2 linked regions of the Homo sapiens genome follow. The protein of the gene in region 1 interacts with the protein of each later gene in a pairwise test. Each region holds a gene or a part of one and is shown on either strand. Other genes may lie near its edges.

What was found. The genes of interacting proteins can lie anywhere in the genome.
Region 2: the proteins of DYNLT3 (region 1) and C2orf15 interact in binary tests that used the Homo sapiens proteins (3 or more experiments, as listed by UniProt).

Annotation. Positions count from the first base shown.
Region 1 is NC_000023.11:37,838,336-37,845,313, reverse strand, and holds the end of DYNLT3 (dynein light chain Tctex-type 3), read left to right. Parts: intron 1-3,408; coding exon 3,409-3,532; intron 3,533-4,208; coding exon 4,209-4,286; intron 4,287-4,662; coding exon 4,663-4,739; 3' UTR 4,740-6,478; downstream 6,479-6,978. UniProt on the Homo sapiens protein: Acts as one of several non-catalytic accessory components of the cytoplasmic dynein 1 complex that are thought to be involved in linking dynein to cargos and to adapter proteins that regulate dynein function.
Region 2 is NC_000002.12:99,136,898-99,145,051, forward strand, and holds the start of C2orf15 (uncharacterized protein C2orf15), read left to right. Parts: upstream 1-4,809; 5' UTR 4,810-5,040; intron 5,041-5,387; 5' UTR 5,388-5,504; intron 5,505-8,154. Other genes in the region: TSGA10 (testis-specific gene 10 protein), read right to left, coding at 4,171-4,242.

The DNA.
Region 1 (6,978 bases):
GAATTAACTCAAGGTCTGAGAGGAATAGACAGGCACCTGAAAATCCTGCCATATTTGAATACTTCAGAATTATGCATTCTATCTATGTAGCCTGAGAGTATTTAATTATTAAAAGTAGAAAGCAAAGGTTTTTAATACCTTTACAATGTAAAAGCACAAATGAGGGAAACTGGGAGGTGGAAGAGGGAGTGGAGGTAATGAGAAGGGAGTGATCTTAGTTTTCAAAGTGGCAAGTCAGGAAAGACTGTCCTTGGTTGATGGAACATAAAAGAAAGAATGCTGGGCTATTTGGGATTCCATTTAAATAGTGCCTTCTTCCTTAAGTTCTGAACCAAATGAAAAGAAAAAAGAGCCATTAGAAAGAGAACAAAATACCACCTTTATTATTGATAAAAACCAGTTTGATGATTGTACCTTGTTTTGCTAACTCCCATTCAGTTCAGCCCTGGGAAGAGTCATCCAAGAGAAAGTTTGAGTCAGCAGAGAGAAACACTTGTTCAGGCTGGTGCCTTTCATTGGTTTGGGTGGAGAGGGAAGGAGAAACTAAAGCCCAAGTTCAACACATTTGGGAGACTCCCAAATGAGATGTTAGAACAATGGTTATCACCCACCAACCAGGTAACTCATTCCACCTCCATGGGGAGGAATAACTGACAGGACAAGAGGCCAGGAATGTTAAAGAACAATCCTCTGCGTTGAAGAAAACATCCAGAGTGGAAAAGAAACATGTTTCTAACAGTGTAAATATATTTAAGTTAAAAAATCGTGATTTCACTATATTGAGAGAAGGGGGCGGGTGGTCTGAGGGAACCAAATTTTCATCTATCATAGTAGGAGTTACATGGATGTTGCCTATAATTCATAAATCAGGAAATAGTGAGATAAACATTATTTGGAGATACATAAGTAACCCTTGGAAGAAATAAAAACAGTTGTACACTGATGAGTTTCCTCTGGGGAATGGGACTGGGGATGGGAAAGGAAAGGGTGGGAAGGAAACTCTTCATTCTAAGCTTTTCTGTTCTACTGGATTTTTCAAACCATATGCCTGTTACTTTAATATTATATCAAATTAAAAGAATCATGCTTTTTCAACTGGGAAATACATACTCGGCAGTGGCTAGGTGGTGCTAGAAGTCACTGGATGCATTTTAGAACATCAGTTTTTCTTGAATATTTGTGAGAGGGAGTTAAGTAATATAAATAATATAACTGAAAACATTTTTGAATAAAAACAAACTCTGATGCATTATGTAGTCAAAACAAGCTTCTCTTGAATTTTTATATGAAATATGAGACTGCAAAGAAACTCAGCTTTGCTACAGGTTACTTGCAGCTAAATGTCTATCTTTCCTCTTCCCATGAACCAACCCTCTTCTGCCATTGAAACATTTCCATTGAGACATTGGAAATGCCTGAGAATGAGCAACATTTTAAAACAGTTTAGCACTTCCTAGATGATTACATAATTTCAGCAGTTATTTCTGATTTCCTTACTGATCTTATTTTCTTATTGATCTTATTTTCTTTCCTTTGATTTCTTGCTCTGAGCCCCTATGCTAATATGTTTTTCCTTCTGAACTCAGAGACACCCATTTATCAGTAATATGCATACATTTTCTTTAGTGTTAGTAATAGAAATTGCTTCCCCAAAAAATCGTCGAAGAAAAAGTGAGCTACAAATGACTTAGAATTTAGTCTAAAGTGTATTTGATTTAAGATACCCAGCGAGTATATCAAAACCAATATTGCTTCAACAACATTTGTTGAATACCTGCTAAGTGCCCAGGTCCTGAGTTTAGCACTGAGAATACAGAGCTGTTTAAGGACCTCATTGTCTCATGGGCCTCCATGTTAATGTAATTAATTAGGCTAGATGTTAATTAATAGTAATTAGCAGGGCTATTTACAGTGGCACCCACACCCCATGGTGTTTTCTGCTGTTTAGAGCAAAACTTGGAGTGGTCCTACTAAATAACCTGAAAGAAAAATGAGTGCTCTTACTTTATCCTTAAGGAAAGGTGATCTCAAGAGAGGAATAGGTTTGTCCAAAGGTCACCAGCTTAGGAATGGTAAAGCCAGAATTAAAATTCTATTCCCCTGATCCTTAAGCCACTACCCTTCCTACTTTGTCATGTTATTGAGCTTTCTAGGAGAAAAATTTGAGCCATATTACTTTTGTCAACCTTGCTAAAATATTTCATTTCTCTTTTCATATTTTATCATTAGTGAAGATTTTATACTATCCAACTTAAGATTTTGTATTAGTGCCTTCATAAATCTTTACTGTGGTCTAATTATAGTAAATAAAGCTGCATGTGTGTGTATGTGTGTATTATTAAGCTAGATTCTAAAAATGAATTAAATGAGTCTAATGATAGTAAATGAAGCTGCATGTGTGTGTTAGATTCTAAAAATGAATTAAATGAGTGCTTTATTATCCAGGCTTTATCACTCAAATATAAAATATAACAGCAGCAATATGATAATAGTAGTTAACATTATTTATATGCTAACTCTGTGCTAGTCCTGTTTGAGCACTTGGTATTCATTGTCTCATTTCATCCTAACAACAACCTGATAAGATGATGCTGTTATCCTTACTATAAGGATTAGGAAAATAGGGATTTGAAGGGGTTAAGTCACTTGCTAAAGGTCACATAGCAGATAGGTGTCAAAGTAGGCCTTAAAACCTAGGATTGTGATACTAGAGCCAGTGCTTTTAATCAGGTGTCAGAAGTGGATGAAATCAAGCACTATGGGAAATTATGATATTTGACTTTATCTTTCTAGAGCATCTTTATTTACTTTCAGTGGCAAGTGTGCTAGTTGTTTCATAGCTAAACAATCACATAGTATGAATGAGAATATAATCAGTTGTTGTTTCATAGCTAAACAATCACATAGTATGAATGAGAATATAATTAGTATACATAAGAATTATGTTTTTAAATTAGTCCCATCCTGTTTCTAGCATGTGAGCCCTAGTTCAAATCCCAGCTGTTTCAAAGCTACTTGTTAACCAATTGATAGCACCTTTTAATTTCCCCACCATAATTTTTATGACATAATTTATCATTAGTCTTCCTTGTGTTATAGATATTCGAATTTTTTTATTAGCTTCTCTGCTAGATTAAGTTATTTACACAGAAGCCATGACATATTTATCTTTATATGGCCCATAGTATCTCATAGAGTGAGATAATGCAAGTGGAAACTCTTTCAAAACTCTTAAGCAATTAGAGACAGTGCATAATCAATGTTTACCAAGTGTATATTTTCTAAGATGCCTTATTGAGCTATAAGTATATTTTATGTTTTGAATAAATTTTTACTGCAATTTGTGTAAAAATTGTTCTTTTTGAACAATTTTACTGACTAAATTAACTGCCCTCTGTGCCCTTTTAGTGTGTAGATGGGGTTTTAGGTGGTGAAGATTATAATCACAACAACATCAACCAGTGGACTGCAAGCATAGTGGAACAATCCTTAACACACCTGGTTAAGTTGGGAAAAGCCTATAAATATATTGGTAAGTATCAGTATCCTTCCTCACTAGTTCACTTGCTTTTGTCATTGTGATTTTCTCTGAATTTTGAGAAGGTATATGTACAATAGACATTTAAGTTGGATACTAAAAGGGTATAAAGGACTTCTGATTTACTCATTCAAAGATAATCTATAATAATACTTAAAAGATGAAGATCTTTCACTACTCAAAGGCAGTTTGAGCTACTTTTCTTTGGTAGCATCACCCTTTGCATTTCCATCAGTTCTTTCTTTCCACTGAGACCCCCCCTTAGCTCAACTGTGTTTCTTTCGGTAGTCCCATGCCTCTTTACCTGTAATTCCACACAGCAACTGTTTATAAAGTGGAGTATTTCCTGCATTTCTGTGTCTGAATTCTGCCCATGGTACAAAGCACAGAATTTGACTGATATTTTTCCTGCAATACAATCACCAATGGTAATGACAATGGTCAGAAAACCAACTGAATCCAGTGGGGTCAAAATCATGATGGTAGATAAAGATGAGAGTCTTTTATTTTTTTTTCAATCTATTTGCTGAACGCTTTGTTTTCTGTTTTTTGTTTGTTTGTTTGTTTTTTGTCTTGTTTTCGGCTTGTAGAGCTCTGAACTCACACACTTTGACCTTGGTTCTCTTTTCCTTTGTCTGTAAGTGCCCTCATTCTGTGACTTTATTTGCAGTGACCTGTGCAGTGGTCCAGAAGAGCGCATATGGCTTTCACACAGCCAGCTCCTGTTTTTGGGATACCACATCTGATGGTAAGAGATCTTAAGCTGATTTACACAAAATCCAACTTTTAGCAAAGTCAAACTGCACTTTTTAACCAAGTACTTATTTAATTCTGATTAAATTCTGAAAAGACTATCAACAGTATTGCTTTGTACCTAGTAACAAGTATACCTTCAGACCGATATGAAATGTGAAAACTTAACAGGTTGAAGGAAATAAGATATTAAAACATGTGAAAAATGTATGTGTATATATATATATATATATGTGTGTGTGTGTGTGTGTGTGTGTGTGTGTGTGTGTGTATATGTGTGTGTGTGTGTGTGTGTGTGTATATATATATATATATTCTCTGATAATTTTTATGTTTTGCTGGTATTTCAAAATCCTTTTTTTGTGTTTCAGGAACCTGTACCGTAAGATGGGAGAACCGGACCATGAACTGTATTGTCAACGTTTTTGCCATTGCTATTGTTCTTTAACTGACTAAAAATGTTGGGCTAAAGCCATTAACTTAAGAATTTGTCAGTGTATCCTTTCCAAAAAGAGTAATAGTTGTTTACTAGTGTGCTAGATGAAAAGCGTGCAATATGCTTTAAAGCTATCAACAAAAACTGAATATTATAAGCAAGCAATATCATAGTAATTGGCAGATTAGCTCATATTCTATACAGCATCGTTTAAATAGGAAAAATTTAATGCTAGCAAAAAATAAATTTAGAAATATGGCATGACATGAAAATACAATCTTATATTTACACCAGCTTTTCACTAATATTTTGTACCTAAGGTGATGGGGAACTCCATTCAGATAATAAAATTCTCTTTCAGCTAGAGAAGTTAACAGGAATAAATATATGAACAAAAAAGCTGCAAGGATAAATGTGGAGAAAATGATGAGAATTAGCTAACATTTTTAAGTTTTTTTAAACTTTCTTCCCCTCAGTTGTACTTAATATTTAGTGGAAAGTAATAATTTTTTTAATTTTCTATCAACTAATAGTATAGTAACAACTATGATTAACTTGTTTACTTTTTCTGAGGATTAGTAAATCAATTTTTTTTAATTTCAAATTTTTGGATTTACACTTGAGGGTAAATTAAATCTGGTAAACTGAATTTCCTAGTTAAATAAAATTAGTTGCAGTATATGATGAACAGTGTATGACTCAAACAGCTGCCTTACAATTCACTCATTCCATGTGGAACAAACATTTATCAGATGCCTATTATGGGCATATGTCTCTGCTAAGCACCATAGTTGTCAATGTGCTGTGCAAATGCTAAGTTCCTTTTAGCAATTGTTCAGTTGGAAGACGTATTAATATTTGGGGAAGGAAAAGAAAGTAGTTGTTTTACAAGGGAGGAAAAAAGTGAATCTGGTTACACATATGGAAGTAAGCAAAATGAAAAGCACTTATTGCTTTCTGACAGAATTATAGATGTAATTTTAAGAGTTGCTCCTAGCAAGTTAAAAGTGCATATAAAATATGCAACTCTTAGTTAAAGGCCTTATTATCAGTCTTACCTATACAAGTAGTAAATTTTGTCATTGCTTTAGTTACAACCATCTGTAAATAACTTAAAAGACTTATTATGTGGGGTTCAAATTGAGTGGAATAAAGTATAGATTAAAAGTATACAATCCTTAGCACGTTATCTCAGGGCTTATGAAATGTAATTAAATTTATTAAGAAAATAGATGAAAAATTAGGGTACACAGCTGGCCACCAAATGCGAAGTCAATCTGCTACTTAACCCTGAAAACAAAATCAGTTTTGCATATTACCACTAACACTAATACATATAGAGAGCGGAACCATAACTCATTGAATTTTGGAGAGGAATAAGCTTAGCGTTAATATTGACAATATTAAGGCAATATTCTTGTAGGAATACTATGTGCATGTTTGATATTTTGCCAAATAACAATAATTAATAATTGTTCAATGTTTAAGAATAATATTAACAAAATAAAGGAGTTTAATGCAGTGATCTTTGTTTTTGGCACATCAAAAATTCTCAGTCATTATTCATGTTTCTTTATGCTGCTGGCTTTTGTGCCCTGGAAGATCATAATAGTGACCAAAATATACATGCAGACTTGTTTTTTATTATTGTTGTTTAAGCATAATTTAAGAAAAAAAATTTTTACCTGGTGAACTTGCTATCTGCTCTGTTTCTAGTTAAAATATAATAAATATTATCTTCCTGTGCTGTACTTTTGCTTCTGGATAATCATTTAATAGTTAGAGAAATGACATTCTGCTTGCTCTTAGAAATTCTAAATAGAAGAAATGCTGGGGGTGGTGGCTCACACCTGTGTAATCCCAGCACTTTGGGAGGCAGGTGGATCATTTGAGGTCAGGAGTTTGAGACAAGCTTGGCCAACACGGTGAGACCGCATCTCTCTTAAAAATACAAAAATTAGCCAGGCGTGGTGGCACACATCTCTAATCCCAGCTACTCAGGAGGCTGAGGCAGGAGAATTGCTTGAACCCGGGAGGCGGAGATCGCAGTGAGCCGAGATCGTGCCACTGCACTCCAACCTGGGCAACAAAACAAGATGCCGTCTCAAAAAAAAAAAAAAAGAAAAAAGAAAGCAATTCTAAATAGGATAAATGAATATGGGACCACATAGATATATTATGCATATTATGCAGAATAAATACCATTAAAATAGCAGCCCAAATCCAGTATTTACCATTACAACATAATTAA
Region 2 (8,154 bases), on another chromosome or scaffold:
AAAAGAACTATGAACATATCCCTTCTGGAGCACTTAATGCATTATATTACTTTTATGGGATGTCCACAGCCATGGCTACTTTAACGTGTCTAAAACAGACTTCCTTTTTTTTTTTTTTTTTGAGACAGTCGTGCTCTGTCACCCAGGCTGGAGTGCAGTGGTATGATCTCGGCTCACTGGAACCTCCACCTCCCAGGTTCAAGCAATTCCCTGCCTCAGCCTCCCAAGTAGCTGGGATTACAGGCACCTGCCACCATGCCCAGCTAACTTTGTATTTTTAGTAGAGATGGGGTTTCACCATCTTGGCCAGGCTGGTGTTAAACTCCTGACCTCATGATCCACCCGCCTCAGCCTCCCAAACTGTTGGGATTACAGGCGTGAGCCACTGCACCCGGCCAAGACTCTGCCTCTTAATGTGATCACCTTAGGGGTTAGAATTTCAACCTAAAAATTTTGTGAGGACACAGAAATTCGGACTGAAGCCACACATTAGAGGAACAGAAAGAAAAAGCTATTGGGCGAACAAAGAAGGGAGTACTAGATCTTGTAAGTGAAGACAAGGGCCAAATCATGTAAGGCCTTACAAAGTTTGGATTTTATTTTTAATTGCAGTGGGAAGCCATTGGTGTATTTTTGAGCCAGGATCATCTTATTATAATTTTCTTTTTCATTTTTTTTTCCCTCTCCCTTCTCCCCTCCCACAGGATCTCATTATTTTGAAGTGATTGATATGATATCAGTGTGGAGAATAGGTTGTAGGGAGCAACAGTGGAAGCGGAAAGATAGCAGGGAATGGTTGCAGTATTTTAGGTGGGAGATGATGGTGACTTGGACCAGGGAGGTGGTAACAAAAATATAGAGAAGTGGATGGATTTAGGATATATATTTGAACCAACAACATTTGCTAATAAATTAGAAGGGATTTATTGCAGTGAGCCGAGATCGTGTCACTGCACTCCAGCCTGGGCAACAGAGTGAGACTCCATGTCAAAAAAAAAAAAAAAAAGGCACAGCCATGATGAGTTGCCTGTATATAATAGGCCCCAGAGAGCTCCCTTGCCCCTTCTAACATATGAGGACAGAGTCTGAAGGTACCATCTATGAACCAAAAAACCTCAGACATTGATTCTGCTGGCAACTTGGATCTTAGAATTCCCAGTCTCCAGAACTGTAAGAATTAAATTTCTGTTGCTTATATGTTATTTCATTATAGCAGCCTGAATGGACTAAGATATTTGCCAGTAACATTTGACTTCAGGTCCTCTGCTCTTGCTTTTCCTCTCTCAGGAACACTTTCTACCCAGCCTTTCACATGGCTATCTTCTCACCCTCAGCTCTTTGGCTGAAATGTCAGAGGGTCTTCCCTGACTTCTTACCTAAAGTAGCCTCTCTCCTAGTCACTCTCTCAAATAAGTGATAAGCTATTTGCACTTATCACTACTTGAAATTATATCATTTGCTGACTTGTTTACTATCTCCCCATACTAGAATATAAAATTCAAGAGCTCTAGGCTTTTGTCTTGTCTCTGTTTTATCCCTAATGCCTTAAAAGTGCCCAGCACAAAGGTGAAACGCAATAAAACATTTTCAAAATAAGAAAATTTAATGATTCGAACAAAGCAGTTTCAATGGTGGGTGAAAACAAGTCTGAAGGGGACTAATGAATGAATAGTAAAGAAAAAGAAATGGAAAATGTAAACTTCTTTTAGGAAGCATGATTGTGAGAGGAAGAGAGGTACAACAAAGGTGGAAGACAACCAAGGTTGTGGAAACGTCATTATGGGAAGAGAAAAACTTGTTCCTTAATTCTCTTTACATAAGGATCCTCTTTCAGAATTAAAAGTCCTGCATCCTCTCCTCAGAAAAATGCAAATACACCTTTACAAACAATTTCAGGGGATTTAAGACTCTATAAGGTCCTTGGACTCCAGGTGAAGAAGCCCTACAGTACAGAAACAATGAAGATTCCTAAGGCATGAGTTAATGTTAATTGATGGAGAAAGACAGCTGAGGTAATAAGAGGAAACCCAGATAAAGATGTATTGCCCCGACACAAGAAAGACAAAAGCAAGGACAGGTGAAGATTTAGACACTTGTAATCCCAATAATCCCAACACTTTGGGAGGCCAAGGCCAGAGGATCACTTGAGCCCAGGAATTTGAGACCAGCCTGGACAACATAGTGAGTTCCTGTATCTACAAAAATTAAAAAATAAATTAGCCAGGCATAGTGGCATCCACCTGTGGTCCCAGCTACTTGGGAGGCTGAGATAGGAGAATCACTTGAGCCCGGGAGGTCAAGGCTGCAATGAGTCATGATCGCACCACTGCACTCCAGCCTGAGCGACAGTGAGATCATGTCTCAAAAAAAAAAGGTAAGTGTCATGGAAATCTGAGGAAGTTTCTGTCTGGTTGAATTTTAATTTTTCAGTGAAACAGGAGCTAAGATTATATAATAAAAAGTATCATCGGTGTTGAGCAAAATATGAAGCACATAATATGTATTCAACAAATTATTGATTTTTTGATAGAATGGAAAATACTGGAGTACTTCAATGGAATTCTGAAATCTGGTTCCACAAAAGCTTACTACAGTTGAGGTGGGTTTTTCTTTTTAAAAATATTGTCTCCAAAAGTGTAGACTTATAGACATTGAAGTAGAAAGGAACTGCCTCACTAACAGAAGGATGTGGAAAACCATACAAGATTTATGAATAATTCTGAGAGAGTATTTTATATAATAAAAATAAGTGGATAAATATTTTGGGAAACAATCAGCAAACTAAATACTGCGAGCAACAATAAAGATTAATCTTAAAAAAAATGTTGAGTAAAGAAGCAAGATGTAAATGAATACTTAGTACAATTCCATTCGAAGTTCAAAAACAAGCCAAACTGTAATGTGCATGTTCACATACAATGATGTGAAACATTAAGGAAAATCAAGGAAGTGGCTATCTTAGAAGTCAGGAGAGTGGCTATCTCTGGGGAGGGAAAGAAATATGTAATCTGAAAAGGTGATAAATAGTAATACCTCTAACTGCCTCTGTGTATGGAGGACTTCAAAACCAAATCGTCCTAAACAAACTAGTCTAAGCAACTCAAAAAGAAGACAGAAAAGATCTCCCAGAGAATCTCTACACCTGATTATATTCTGGGCTACAGGCAGTGATTTTTCTTCAGAAGGTAAACAGTACGCGAGATATTGTGGAAGCTGCCATTAAATAATGCCAAAGTTTAGGATTTAAAATTAATATTTAATTAATGTACCGTCCTAGTTATTTCCCACTAATTAAGACTGAAGAGTTTGGCTCATTAATCAATTAAAATACAAACAAGAATCTGTCTTATCCTGGAAGCAGATTCGAATGCGACATCCTACTTCTATAACTAACCTGTTTTTTTCTACTTACAAACCTATTGTTATTCTACTTATGTCCTTACACGTAAACAAAGTATACTTGAAATGCTGAACACCAGTACAGAAAATTTTAAACAAGGAAATCTCCTAGGATATAAGGTCCTGGAATGGAAGAAGGAAAACGTTGGGACACTATAATCTATGCAAACTTTCCCGAAGCTGCGAAAAAAAAAAAGTGAAAAAAAACCATATTTCTGTGAGTTTTTAGGTATCAAGTCCATGATCACCTAGTTATCCAATTTAAGTCTCAAATAGTTTTTCAACAAAAGCCAGCTTTCCCTGCCTTTACTGTGTATAATTTTTACTAAAATTATCTGAGATTTTCATGCAAATGCCTATGTAATCTCAGCCTTTCACCACCCCAAGTCTAGAAAGAGGCTCAGAAATGAGCGATCGGGAGTCAGGCTGAACTCCCAAATCTGTGACTTCCAAATTCCTCGGCTCCACCAGAGCTTCCAGAGCGTTTCTAAACTGAACAGTCTCCCCAACAACCAAGCGGAGAGCTGCGGGAGGACGCGAAGCAGTGACCATAGGAACTGGGCTCAAACCTAACCTCCCAAGAAACAGGGGCAACTCGTGCTGCCGAGCTTCCGGCCGGCAGCTGTGCCCGCCGCTGCCCCTCACAGCCGCTCCCGCTGCTAGCGCCCAACTCCGCCCGCCACGGCCCCGCACCCGCCACTCCTGCCCGCTTGCAGCCGCCTTCTCAGAGACCTTCCAGTCCAGTAGCAGCACTCTCCCCACCCCGCGCACCTCCGCAGCTTCTACCTGGAGCTCCGGGTCCCTCCCCGGGCTCCTCGGCCCGCCGTCCTGCCCAGAGCTCATCCCCGCGACTGTCAGCTCTCGGCCTCAGCGGGGGATACAAGAACCGCCCACTCTCCATCCTCCGCCCCTTTCTCCTCCCTTCCCACCCCCAAATCGTCCTGGCCCCGCCCCGGCGGATCGGAGGAAGGACGGAGCCCGCGGGAAGGAGGAGGGGGCGGTTAGCGCCAGCCAGTGCCGCCGTGGCCCCGCCCTCACGCTCTGTACCGGAGTGGGGCTCGTCTTCCACCTCCCCGGCGCCCCAGCTTTGCTTCCGTCCCGCTCGCCCCCAGGCCCGGTGCGCACGCGTACCTGGCTCGACCTTCCTTCTCGCGGGGTCTACAAGCCGTGCGCGCGCTCCTACGCACGGAGCGACGCGTACGTCTACCTGCCTGCCTTACAGGGCACCTAGGAGGGACCCCTTCCTGGCCCATCCGCGCCGCGCAGGCGCACGCCCACGCAGCGCCTAGACGCCCGAGCCGAGCGTCCCGTCTCCTAGTAACCAGCCGCTAGCCCCCTTTTCCACGACTCATTTCTTAATCTCTGCCTGAGGCTGCCGCACCTGGATGGAACGCGCATGCGCAAGGCTGTCTCTCGCAGCCCCGCCTTCCCTCAGCTTGAAACACCTGCTGCTTCGCGGCGGTGGCTTTGTGCCACTTTTCCCAGGGCTTGGGCATCATTCTGGACCCATGTTCGGTGAACCGGTTACTCTCAGAGCTGCTTTCGGGCGCAGCTCCTGCTGCAGCCAGGGCCCGTTTTAAGAGAGGCTTCCAGGTCCAGCCCTCCCGCTGCAGCCTGCAGGGAGCGAGCCGGCCTGTCCCGGTGAGCGTGGGCAGCCTGGAGTCAGGGGAGCCTGGGGACCACGGCCTTGGTCAGCTCTGCACGATCAGGGCTGAATCAGGAAGTGGCAGATCTAGCAACAAAGTCCAGATTCCTGACCGATATTCCTTCTCCACATGCCAGTCCTTTTCCAAATCCCCTCACCTTAAAGTGACAAATGAGCTTTTTAGTGAAAAAGAATGAGCGCTGCATTCTTCTACCAATTTTTTGGAGCCCAGAATGGGGGGGAAAAAAGTCTTCTTAATTTTTCTTAATACCTACCATGTCCCTTCTTAAATAACTCAAGAGCTTCTGGATGATAATGGTGACTTTATCTCCTTTTCCTGCAGATGACATAGACACTAGGTTTTTACAGCAATTCTCTGATGACCTTGATATGGTAGAACGCTGTGTATTTCAAGAGTAAGCTCTCGTTTGAGGAGACTAACAATTCCTGTTTTCGCCAGGTGAGTACTCATTTTTCCCCCCACAAGATATCATTGGCAGGGATAAACAACTTTTGTGTAGAACAAATTTAGTCATAAAAATACATTTAATATAAATGCCATGTTTTTCCAATGTCTTTTCATCGTGTTATTACATGGTCTCATATTTTGTCGCATTTATTTTCAGATATCATATACTTTGTAAGTATAATTAGATACCAAAAAAAATTAAGTGTCCCTGTTATTTTAGATTAAGAGGTTAGAGGACACAAGGAGCACATATCCTCGGAAATGTAATTTTTTAAATGCACAAAATAACAAACTGAGAAGTTATGTTAGAGGGAATAATGTATAATCTCATTTCCTCTTCAGATACTAAGATTATTTTGAATACATTATCTAGCATTATTAAAAACAAATAGGAAAGAATGTTCTAAGTTTAAAACTATCAGCTGGAGTTGAAGACTTCGGGGGTGGGGAGATTATTAATATAGGAAGTAGGAAAGTACTTCCCTTATAGAAAGAATAAGAAAAGTTTAAGCACTTATGTATGCCACCTAGACGGTACTGAAGATTATTTGGAAAGAATATAAGGAAATGATCATTTTAAGGCCAAAAGAGGGTGAAAAGATTTTCCTTTTTTTTCCTATCAAGAACTGTTGACTTTCTCCCCTAACCTGAGAAAGTAAAAATTTCCTTCCCTCTGTGGAAACCCAAGGGGTAGTGAGTGTCCCACCCTGCCCCAACTAAACCTTTTTTTTTTTTTTTTTTTTTTTTTTGAGACAGAGTCTCACTCTGTCGCCCAGGCTGGAGTGCAGTGGCACGATCTCGGCTCACTGCAACCTCCGCCTCCCGGGTTCATGCCATTCTCCTGCCTCAGCCTCCCAAGTAGCTAGGACTACAGGCGCCCACTACTACGCCCAGCTTTTTTTTTGTTTGTTTTTTGTTTTTTGTATTTTTAGTAGAGACAGGGTTTCACTGTGTTAGCCAGGATGGTCTTGATCTCCTGACCTCATGATCCACCCGCCTCAGCCTCCCAAAGTGCTGGGATTACAGGTGTGAGCCACTGCGCCCAGACTTTTTTTTTTTTTCCTTTTTTTTAAGACAGAGTCTCACTCTGTTGCCCTGTACCCAGGCTGGAGTGCGTTGGCATGATCTCAGCTCACTGCACCCTCCACCTTTCAGGTTGAAGCAGTTCTCCTGCCTTAGCCCCTTGAGTAGCTGGGACCACAGGTATGTGCCACCATGCCCAGCTAATTTTTGTATGTTTTTGTAGAGATGCGGTTTCACCATGTTGCCCAGGCTGGTCTTGAACTCCTGGACTCAAGTGATCCACCCACCTCAGCATCCCAAGTGCTGGGATTATATGCATGAGCCACTGTGCCTGGCCCAGGCTAAGCCTTATATAGTACCCTGTGCTTGCTCTCTCGTGACAGACACCTTCTAAGGTCTTGGTTTTCTAGTCCCTTAATTTTTCCATCATTTCAAAAGCTTCACTACAAAAACCTCTGTTATTACTATTTTTTGTTTTGTTTTCACTGTCCTCTTCCTGATCCCCTCAAAAAAAAATCTGGGACTCCAATTCCATATGTGTTAAGCCACTTGATCTTGTTCCACAGCTCACTGATGCTGTGTTCCTTTTTTTTGTTTGTTTTTTTGAGATGGAGTCTCGCTTTGTCTCCCAGGCTGGAGTGCAGTGGCGCGATCTCCGCTCACTGGAAGCTCTGCCTCGCGGCTTCACGCCATTCTCCTGCCTCAGCCTCCCGAGCAGCTGGGACTACAGGCGCCCACCACCACGCCCGGCTAATTTTTTTGTATTTTTAGTAGAGACGGGGTTTCACTGTGTTAGCCAGGATGATCTCGATCTCCTGACCTCATGACCTGCCCGCCTCGGCCTCCCAAAGTGCTGGGATTACAGGCATGAGCCACCGCGCCCGGCCTGTGTTCCGTTTTTTAAATCAGAGAGTTTCCTCCTTATGCCGAGGCCTGAAAGTTCCAGGCAATGTCCATTCATAGGGCTCACTTTATTTCCTGTTTCTCAAGGATCACTCTCCCGAACTGCCTGTTGTCCAATATCTAAAAGCCATTGCTTCATGTGTTTTGTGTTTTGATGCTGAAAGCAGGCGGGGCACGGTGGCTCATGCCTGTAATCCAGCTACTCGGGAGGCTGAGGCAGGAGACTTGCTTGAACCCGGGAGGCAGAGGTTGCGGTAAGCCGAGATCGTGCCATCGCCCTCCAGCCTGGGGGACAAGAACAAAACTCTGTCTCAAAAAAAAAAAAAAAAAAAAAAGATGCTGAAAGCATGAGGATAAGTCTGGTCTCTGTTACTCCATCATGACTAGCAGCAGAAGTCTGCCATTCTTCACAGTTCCAGGCCCCATGTCACTAACTATCCTCAAGGGATGTGGTTTGCAATGCAAAAATTGCTTCAGGCTGGGGGAACTGTAAGTGCAAAGGTCCTGAAGCAGGAGAAGGTTTGGCATAGAATATGCTTGAGGAACAGCAATGGGGTGATAGGTCTGGGGTCGAATAAGGCAAAGAGACAGGAGAGAGTGCTTGCTAGTAGAGTTGTTTGCTACGGCTGTGCAACAATTTACCACACACTTGGTGTCTTTAAGCAACACAAATTTATTATCACACGGTTCTGGAGATTTACAAGTTCAAATTGGG